2 separate regions of the Homo sapiens genome follow, and region 1 is linked to region 2. A link means that fine-mapping ties the variant in region 2 to the expression of a gene that starts in the linked region. Tissue or cell type: adrenal gland. Region 2 holds a variant in brackets; the other region holds the start of a gene. All regions are shown on one strand. Distances are from middle to middle.

Region 1 (4,236 bases), 190 kb before region 2:
CATGCCATCATGCCCGGCTAATTTTTGTATTTTTAGTAGAGATGGGGCTTCATCATATTGATCAGTCTGGTCTCGAACTCTTGACCTCAGGTGATCTGCCTGCCTCGGCCTCCAAAAGTGCTGGGATTACAGGCATGAGCCACCATGCCCGGCCCAGGCCCAACTTTTAAAAGTAGTAATATAATTTACCCTTATTTTTGTTTGTTTTGAAACAGGGTCTCACTCTGTCACCCAGGCTGGAGTACAGAGGCACGATCTTGGCTCACTGCAACCTCCACCTCCTGGGTTCAAGCGATTCTCATACCTCAACCTCCCCAGTAGCTGGGACTACAGACACACGCCACCACACCTGGCTAATTTTTGTATTTTTAGTAGAGATGGGATTTCGCCATGTTAGCCAGGCTGGTAATTTACCCTTTATTGAGAACTCAATACATAGCAGGTATCTTGCTAAATAAGAGCTTCACATACACCCATCATTTTATTTTATGCCTGCAATACTTATGAAGTAGGGATTTATCATTCCCCTTTTACAGATGAGGAAACTGAGGCTTACAGTATTTTATGACTTGCTTGAGGTGATGCAGTAAGAAGAGATGCTGCCAGGCCTTTCAGATTTCAGAGCCCATGTTCTTAACCACCGCATGATAACAGCAACTTAAATGCCACCACCTACATGAAAGCTTGGTGCCCAGCAAGCCTTTCCTCTTCTAAACACTCGTAACTCTGTACTCTTCCCCGTCTGTGACATCTGCCTCCATCTGCTTTAGTGTGTGTATATATGTGTGTGTGTGTATGTGTGTGTGTGTGGTGAGCACACATTTCTTTTTTTTTTTTTTTTTTCTTACTCCCTTAAAAGAGCATGAAGAGCATACGTTCCTTGAGGGTTGAAGTCATGTTCAGTCCTCTCTCTCCCAGGGTCAAGCCAAGTCCCTGGCACACTGTGGATATTCTACCTGTGTCTGGTGAGCAGATGAAGGAATGAGGGCCCCGGGTTTCCTTCTGCCAGGCTCTATCCCCATGGAGGACAGTCAAAGAAAAAGCAGGCAGTTGCACTTCAGAGATATAAATAAGCGTCATCAGAGAATCACTGGGATGTTTACTCAGGAGAGCATAGGGAAGATGTGTTCTAGAACAAGGAGACCAGCCTTTCATGACAAAGGTGGGTGTGCAGACCCTCCTGGAGGCAGGGGAGGGAGTGATGGCTTCTGGAAGGCCCTCCTGGCCTGTGATGTTGATGCCTGTGCTGGACGTTGTCTCTGTCTGCCCATCCTGCTCCGCCCTGTTCTCTTCCCTGTAGGAGATCACAGAAAGAGGAGAGAGTGGGGCTGGGGTGGTGCTTCCAGGTGGGTGGTGCTGGGTCGGGTAGCAGCTCTTTGTTGTTGGGCTCAGGAGTCTGTGTTATCCAGTTATCCATGTGACTTCCCTACACCCTGAACACATCTTTGTGGAGAGTCCTTTTTTTAGACCCTTTTCACATGATCCTGATTTGATGGTGCCCTTTGTTCCTGCAGAGACCCTGACTGATGGGGTGGAACGCCCTTTTCTGTACTTTTTGGGCCACTCCCTGAGGTTGGATCTATGCTGATATATTTCGGCATCCCCATGCCTGGCATAGTCCTGGGGTTGTGGTTCCTTGTTTATTTTTTATTTTGATTTGTTAGAGACAAGGTCTTGCTCTGTCACCCAGGCTGAAGTGCAGTGGTATGATCATCGCTCACTGCAGCCATGAACTCCTGGGCTCAAACGATCCTCCTGCCTCAGCCTCCTGAGTAGCTGGGACTACAGGTGTGCTGGTGTGCACCTCTGCACCCAGCAGGTTGTAGGGTTTTTTTGTTTTTTTGAGACAGGGTCCTAGGCTGGAGTGCAGTGGTGCGATCTTGGCTCTCTGCAACCTCTACCTCCCAGGTTCAAGCGATTCTCCCATCGTAGCCTCTGGAGTCACTGGGACTACAGGTCATGCCACCATGCCAGCTAATTTTTGTATTTTTTGGTAGAGACAGGGTTTCTGCATGTTGGCCAGGCTGGTAGCAAACGCCTCACCTCAAGTGATCCACCAGACTTGGCCTCCCAAAGTATTGGGATTAGAGGCGTGAGCCACCATGCCCAGCTAGGTTGTGGTTCAAATAGCTAGCATTTATTGAGCACTTACTATGTGCCTGACATTATTCCCTGTATTCGTCAATCCTCACAACAATCCCATGATTATCATCCCCACTTACAGATGAGGAAACTAAGACACACAGATATTGAAGAGCTTGTCCCAGGTTACAATGGGGTGGATCTGGGATTGGAGCCCAGGCACTGTGACTCCTGAGCTGACAGTGTGACTCTCAGCCCCATCTTTGGACTGCCTTTCTGCTTGTTGTATGGGACTGATGCCTCTTAGCTTTGGGATTGAAAATAATTTGCTTCTTTGCTAACTCAGCAACTCAGGTGGAATGGGAATGAAAAGAATTTGTTTCTTTGCCAACTCAGTAACTCAGGTGGAATGGGCAGAAGGTGGAATGTAGGTCACCATGGCAACTGGATCAACGAGGTGCCTCAGCTGGCGAGTCCTTGAGGCTGAGGTTCTACTGCTGGCAGACAGAAAGGTGTGGTTGGCATGGGGCAATGCTTGAGGTATCAGATGCACTGGGAGGACCTGGAAGAGTACCAGGTGGGTAGATCGGGCTAGGGACTCTGGGCAGAGGTGGGAGCTTCCTAAAGCAGGTGGAATGAATGGGAAAATTCCTTCCTGACGCTCTAGCAGGGGTGTCCAATTTTTGGCTTCCCTGGGCCACATTGGAAGAAGAATTGTCTTGGGCCACACATAAAATACACTAACACTAATGCTTGCTGATGAGCTAATAAAAAAAAATCACGAAAAAATCTGATAATGTTTTAAGAAAGTTTACAAATATGTGTTGGGACCCCATTCAAAGCTGTCCTGGGCTGCATGTGGCCTGCAGGCCGTGGGTTGGACAAGCTTGCTCTAGAGTTTACCAGGCGGGGTAGCGGTGGTCCCTCTCTTTGCTAAATCTGCATCCATGTGGCCCAGATGAGATCTCTAAGGTTACCTTCCTCCATCTGTCTCCTGCACCAGAGCCCAGAGTTTCACTCTTGTCTCTGATCTGCTCTCCACATCTGTGCCAATGCCCTCCTTCCCAGGGCTGTAAGAGACTAGGGGGTAAGAAAGAGCACCATTTCCTCTCCTGCTGCCACCTCAGGCATCCACCTCAACCTGGGGTTCCCCCAGCTGTGCAGCAAAAGAATGGGCATTTCCTCCCCAGCCTCTGAATTGCGCCACTCCCCAGGGGCCACAGCAGGGATGAATGGAGTGGACACGTCGCTTCTCTGTGATTTGTTGCAGGCCCTGACCTTCCTGACCAGAAATGAAATTCTGTGGTGAGTAGAAGCCCCGCCCCTCTTTCCTTCTCCCAGCTCCTCCCTCTGAGCTGGATTCTTGCCCTAATACAGCCTCACGCTGGTCCCTGAGTGTGGTCCCTGCTCAGAGCCACACAGCCCTGGAGATGGGGCTGGGACACGGCAGGCAGGGATGGGAGGGCCCAGGGGCCACGATCCGCAGAGCCCCACTGGAGCTGAATGAGACACCAGGCTTTAGGCTGCTAACCTTTTACTGGGATCCAAAGTGAGGTTTCTTCAGAGGATCATGGAGCTGGACAGAACCTCTTTGGAATAATGAGGAGAACAAGGAAAGGACTTGGGGAACTTATGTCTGAAGCCCATTTTGGCTGTCCACTGGCTGGGTAAACTTGGATGCATGACTGAAGCCCAGACTTCCCTCTCCACCTCCCTCCCTCCCTCCCTCCCTCCCTGCCCTTTCTCCGGTGCCTGTGATGTGCTGGCCTCGTGGAGGCCCTGAGGGTGGGGTGGTGAGCAGCCCCGCTCCCTGTTGTCATGCGGACCGCTGTCCAGTGGGGAAGAAACTTCATTCAACGTGGAGGTGGCCAAATACCCTTCTCGTGGGGCTGTGGGGGAGAGTGAATAGTGTGAGAGGTGTGTGTGTGTTTGTGTGTTTGGGCCAAGCCAGGTGCCCAACAAAACCTGTTAGATGAATAAAGGAGCTCACCAAGACACTTTCAGGGGAAGGTGGGGGAAGGTTCCCTCTCATCATCTTTGCTTGGACTAACCCTCCCCAGTCACCACACGGAAGCCACATTTCCCACTCAGGGTCTGGTGGTGGCAGGTAACAACTTTGTCACAAGTGCAAGACTCTCCAGGCACAAATGAGGA
Region 2 (4,236 bases):
GCCCCAGCCCGCCTTCAGATAGCCCTGTCCTTAGTCCCCGCATCTTGCCCAGCAGACTCTTCTCCACTCACTGGCTCTGCCTGGCTCCCCAGCCCATCCAGCTCCCCTGGTTCTGGTCTCAGGCAAGCCTTCCAGCCCCGCAGCCCACCTAGGCTTCTTCAGACCCATGACGAAGGCCTCCAGAATCTTGAGGACATCATTGGGGTGGATGACCCAGGGGGAGGGTGGGGTCTCCTCCTCTTCCTCCTTCTCCCCTTCCACCAGGCTTTCTTCCTTTTCTCCCTCCATCTCCGTCTGCTCTGCCAGCTCCAATTCTGACCTCGTGCTTGTCTCCTCCATGCTCGCCTTCTCCATGCTCGCCTGACTGCAGGGCTTGATCTGGAGAAAGATGCACGGACAACTGTGGGCTGGGGACACACGAGCATGAGCATGGAGAGAGAGGCAGGAAGAAGAAAAACCAGAAAAGTTTACAGAAAGTGACAGCTTGCCCAGGGAGACATTTACACAGGGACAGAAACAGGAGAAAGAGTGGGAAGAAGGGGGATGGGATGGGGAGAGGCACTAGGAGGCTACGAGAAAATGGAAAGGTTCTGTTTCTAAATCCGGGCTCCTAGGTGCTCACCTTACTGACATTCATAAAGCTTACATGTTAGAAATCTTCTTTTGAATCATAATACAGATTAAATTTTTGCTTTAATTGTTAAATTTAAAAGGTCTTCCTCCTACTCCTATTTTGCAGTTCATGCAATTGACCTCCCACAGGCAAACGAATGCTATCAAGTTTCCTATGGTTCCTTCCAAGGAAATAGTATGTCTATATAATGTTTATATATAAATACATGCGCATACCTTTCCATATATACTCCTCCTTCTCGTTTTGACATCAATGATACTATACTACAAATAGAGTTCTGTAGTTTGCTTTTACACTTACCAATAAACCTTAGGTACCTTTTCATGTGAATACATAAAGAACTTTGGTTTTTTCCCACAGTTTTATAGTACCCCATCGTGTAGACATACCATATATTATTAAATAGATTCCTCAACAATGGACATATAGGTTGTTTCGAATCTTCTGCCATTTCAAACAATGTACAGTGAATCAGCTACAATAAATACACCATTTCAACTGTAATGAGATATATTTAGAGAATAAAATCCTAGAAGAAGAATTTCAGAGGCCAAGGTGGGCAGATCATTTGAGGTCAGGAGTTCGAGAGCAGCCTGGCCAACATGGTGAAACCACATCTCTACTAAAAATACAAAAATTAGCCGGGCGTGGTGGCAGGTGCCTGTAATCAATCCCAGCTACTCAGGAGGCTGAGGCAGGAGAATGGCTTGAACCTGGGAGATGGAGGTTGTAGTGAGCCGAGATCGTGCCACTGCACTCCAGCCTGGGCAACAGAGTGAGACTCTGTCTCAAAAAAAAGAAGAAGAATTTCAGAGTAAAATGTATATAGTTTTGTAATTGATACTGCCAAACTGTCCTCAATGGAGGTTACAATTTATACTCCTACCAGTAACTTATGAGTGTGCCTGTTTTCTACACCTCAGTCATCGCTATGTTATACTTGCTGTGTTATCAAGCTTTTTTTTTTTTTGCGCCAACATAACAGGTTGGCAAAATGGAAATCAGCCATTTTAATTTGCATTTCTCTTATTACAAGGAAGGCTGATTGTCTTTTCATATGTTTAAGAGTTACCTGTATTGCCTCTTCTAGGAGTTGTTCATTCATATTTGTTATCTGTTCCTTTTGTTGGTCTTTTTCTTATTGATTTCAGAGAGCTCTTTATATATTAAGGAAATGCCTTAACTATGATATGAGTTGAAAATATTTCTCTGCAGCTTGTCATTCATCTCTTAACTTTGCTTATCATGATTTTTGCACTACAGAATTGTTTTTAAATTCTGTAGTCAAATATAGCTTTTATTCCCTTTATGGCTTTGTGGTTTTGTCCATTTCTGCCAGCTCTTTTTTTCTTTTCTCTTTTTTTTCCCTTAGAGACAGTGTCTCACACTCTGTCACCCAGGCTGAAATGCAGTGGTGAAATCATGGCTCACTGCAGCCTCAACCTCATCATGGCTCACTGCAGCCTCAACCTTCTGGGCTAAACTGAGCCTCCCAAGTAGCTGGAACTATAGGCATGAGCCACTGTGCCTAGCCCAGCCAACTCTTTTTACAGGCATGTCAGGATACTCAGCTTTGGGCTAGCAGTACTAAAAACATTTTTCATTCACATTTTTCATTTTTAAATTAAAATGTTATATGACTTTTAATATGGCATCTTCTTTAAAATAGTTAATATTTGATTCACCTTCTGAAATCAATTACAATCAAGATATGTAGGACAAATGGGCCTTGCCTTGCGGGAAAGTGTTAAGGATCAAAATATTCAGAA[C/T]CTGGTGGGCTCTGGTCTCACAGTGGCTGAGACCTGGTTTTGAGGGAGGGTGCAGGAAAAGATTGCTTGGGCCTCAGTATAAGAACAGCATCTCACCCCCAAGCCATTCTTCCCTTTACAAAGAGACAAATTGATAAACAATAAGGGAAATGCTAAGTTAGCTATACCTGACATAAAAGCCCCGCTATTTCTCCAGAAGTGCTACTCAAAGACAGCACTGTGCTCTGGGGGCTTCGGGACAATTGAAAATGCAGGGACATGGATGAAGCTGGAAACCATCATTCCCAGCAAACGATCACAAGATCAGAAAACCAAACACCGCATGTTCTCACTCATAAATGGGAGTTGAACAATGAGAACACATGGACACAGGGAGGGAAACATAACACACCGGGGCCTGTCGGGGGGTGGGGGCTAGGGGAGGGATAACATTAGGAGAAATACCTAATGTAGGTGATGGGTTGATGGGTGCAGCAAACCACCAGAGCACATGTATACCTATGTAACAAACCTGCATGTTCTGCACATGTAACCCAGAACTTAAAGTATAATAAAATAAATAAATAAATAAGAAAGAAAGAAAATGCTTTCTTCTCTCTGCACCTTGCCTTACCTGGAGGCTGGAAGATAAACGGTGAGCTCGATATTTAAGGAAGAAGTTCACCAGTTTATACAAGTCATCCTCACTTTCAATTCCAAGGGCCTGGGGCGAAAAACAGGATGGTTGCTCAAACACCCCATCAAGAGGCCACGGGCTTGGGCAGCTGACAGATGCTCAGCTCCTAAGAGCGGGAGGCTTGGCTTGTGGAGGGCATTCATCCAACGCTGGGAAGCGACTGTGAACTTGGGGACACACACATCAGAACACACGGAAACAATGCTCATAGAGCCAGGAGCTGCTCCATATGGATCCCATGGCTGTGAGGATGCCTAGTGGGGCTGCACCAGATTTGAGTTTGGGGGTGTCAGGGAGAACCTACAACCTGAGAGGAAGATGCTAGTAGAGGAAGAGGCAGGGGTGGGAGACACTGCAGTGAGTCTGAGACCAATGTGTTGTGTGGAGAGTAGGTTAAGGGAAGGATGTGACAGGGAGCAGGGGAAGCCCCGGGAGACCCTCGTCCACTGCCAGGGTTGAGGCAATGGCAGGGCCATCTGAGAACACGGCCGGCTGCAGCCCCACCCGTGTCCTCCCAGCCCCGTTGGACTCACGGAGAAGATGGCATCCAGCCTCAGCAGATAGCATTCATTCTGCTCCAGGGGCAGGAGAAGGCTCAGCAGCTTGCTCTCTATGAGGAACCCCTGGGGAGAAGGAAGAAGGCATCTCCTGTCGGGGACAGGTTTCAGGAGCGAGTCCCAGGGTCTGCAGCTGCCCCCTGTGTAACACTCCAGGGACCATGCCACGGAGCAGACGCCCAGGGATGGGAGCCAGCAGTGGGCCCCAGCAAAGCCTTCTTGGGGTGCCCATGAACGCCCCCCTCCCCAGGGAGCAAGGCCAGAGACAAGCAAGGCCAGGGACAAAGCCCATCCTCACCACAGACTTAGCTTTTCCCACCCAGAAGGGCACCAACCCACCTCACCCACAAGCCACTAGGCAAACTCCTGAGGCCCCCACCACAGTCCAAAGCTGACCCAGTCACAGGCTCCTGCTTCACCCATAGTCTTGTCCCCAAATATCTACAGAACACAGCAGCAGGACAGGGAGGCATGGAAAGCAGTGGGCACCCCAAACCAAAACACAGCACACATGCGGTGGAAGGGAGAGGGCGGCTGAGCAGATGCGGTGCCCGCTCTGAGCTGGGATGCCTGGGGGAGAGCTCCATGGGGAGGTGGCCT

Alleles and levels. Positions count from the first base shown, and alleles are read on the strand shown. Sizes are in standard deviations (SD) of each study's normalised expression.
For the expression in adrenal gland of the gene that starts at base 2,554 in region 1, T is the low allele of the variant in region 2 and C is the other (moderate effect, 0.73 SD a copy in GTEx).

Evidence for each region. PIP is the estimated chance that this variant, and not a neighbour inherited with it, causes the effect.
Region 1: it holds the start of CIB4, and the variant in region 2 is the best candidate, but not a certain one, in a credible set for the expression of CIB4 in adrenal gland (GTEx, PIP 0.63).

Annotation. Positions count from the first base shown.
Region 1 is chr2:26,639,684-26,643,919 of GRCh38, reverse strand. It overlaps CIB4 (calcium and integrin binding family member 4), which reads left to right and starts at 2,554. Exons shown (of 7, transcript NM_001029881.3): 1 at 2,554-2,659; 2 at 3,353-3,387. The coding sequence starts at 2,606.
Region 2 is chr2:26,449,462-26,453,697 of GRCh38, reverse strand. It overlaps DRC1 (dynein regulatory complex subunit 1), which reads right to left. Exons shown (of 17, transcript NM_145038.5): 12 at 3,613-3,702; 13 at 3,017-3,106; 14 at 149-378. Among named protein-coding and RNA genes, the nearest start is that of DRC1, 50 kb to the right of the region's middle. The variant C/T (reference allele first, on the strand shown) is at 2,404.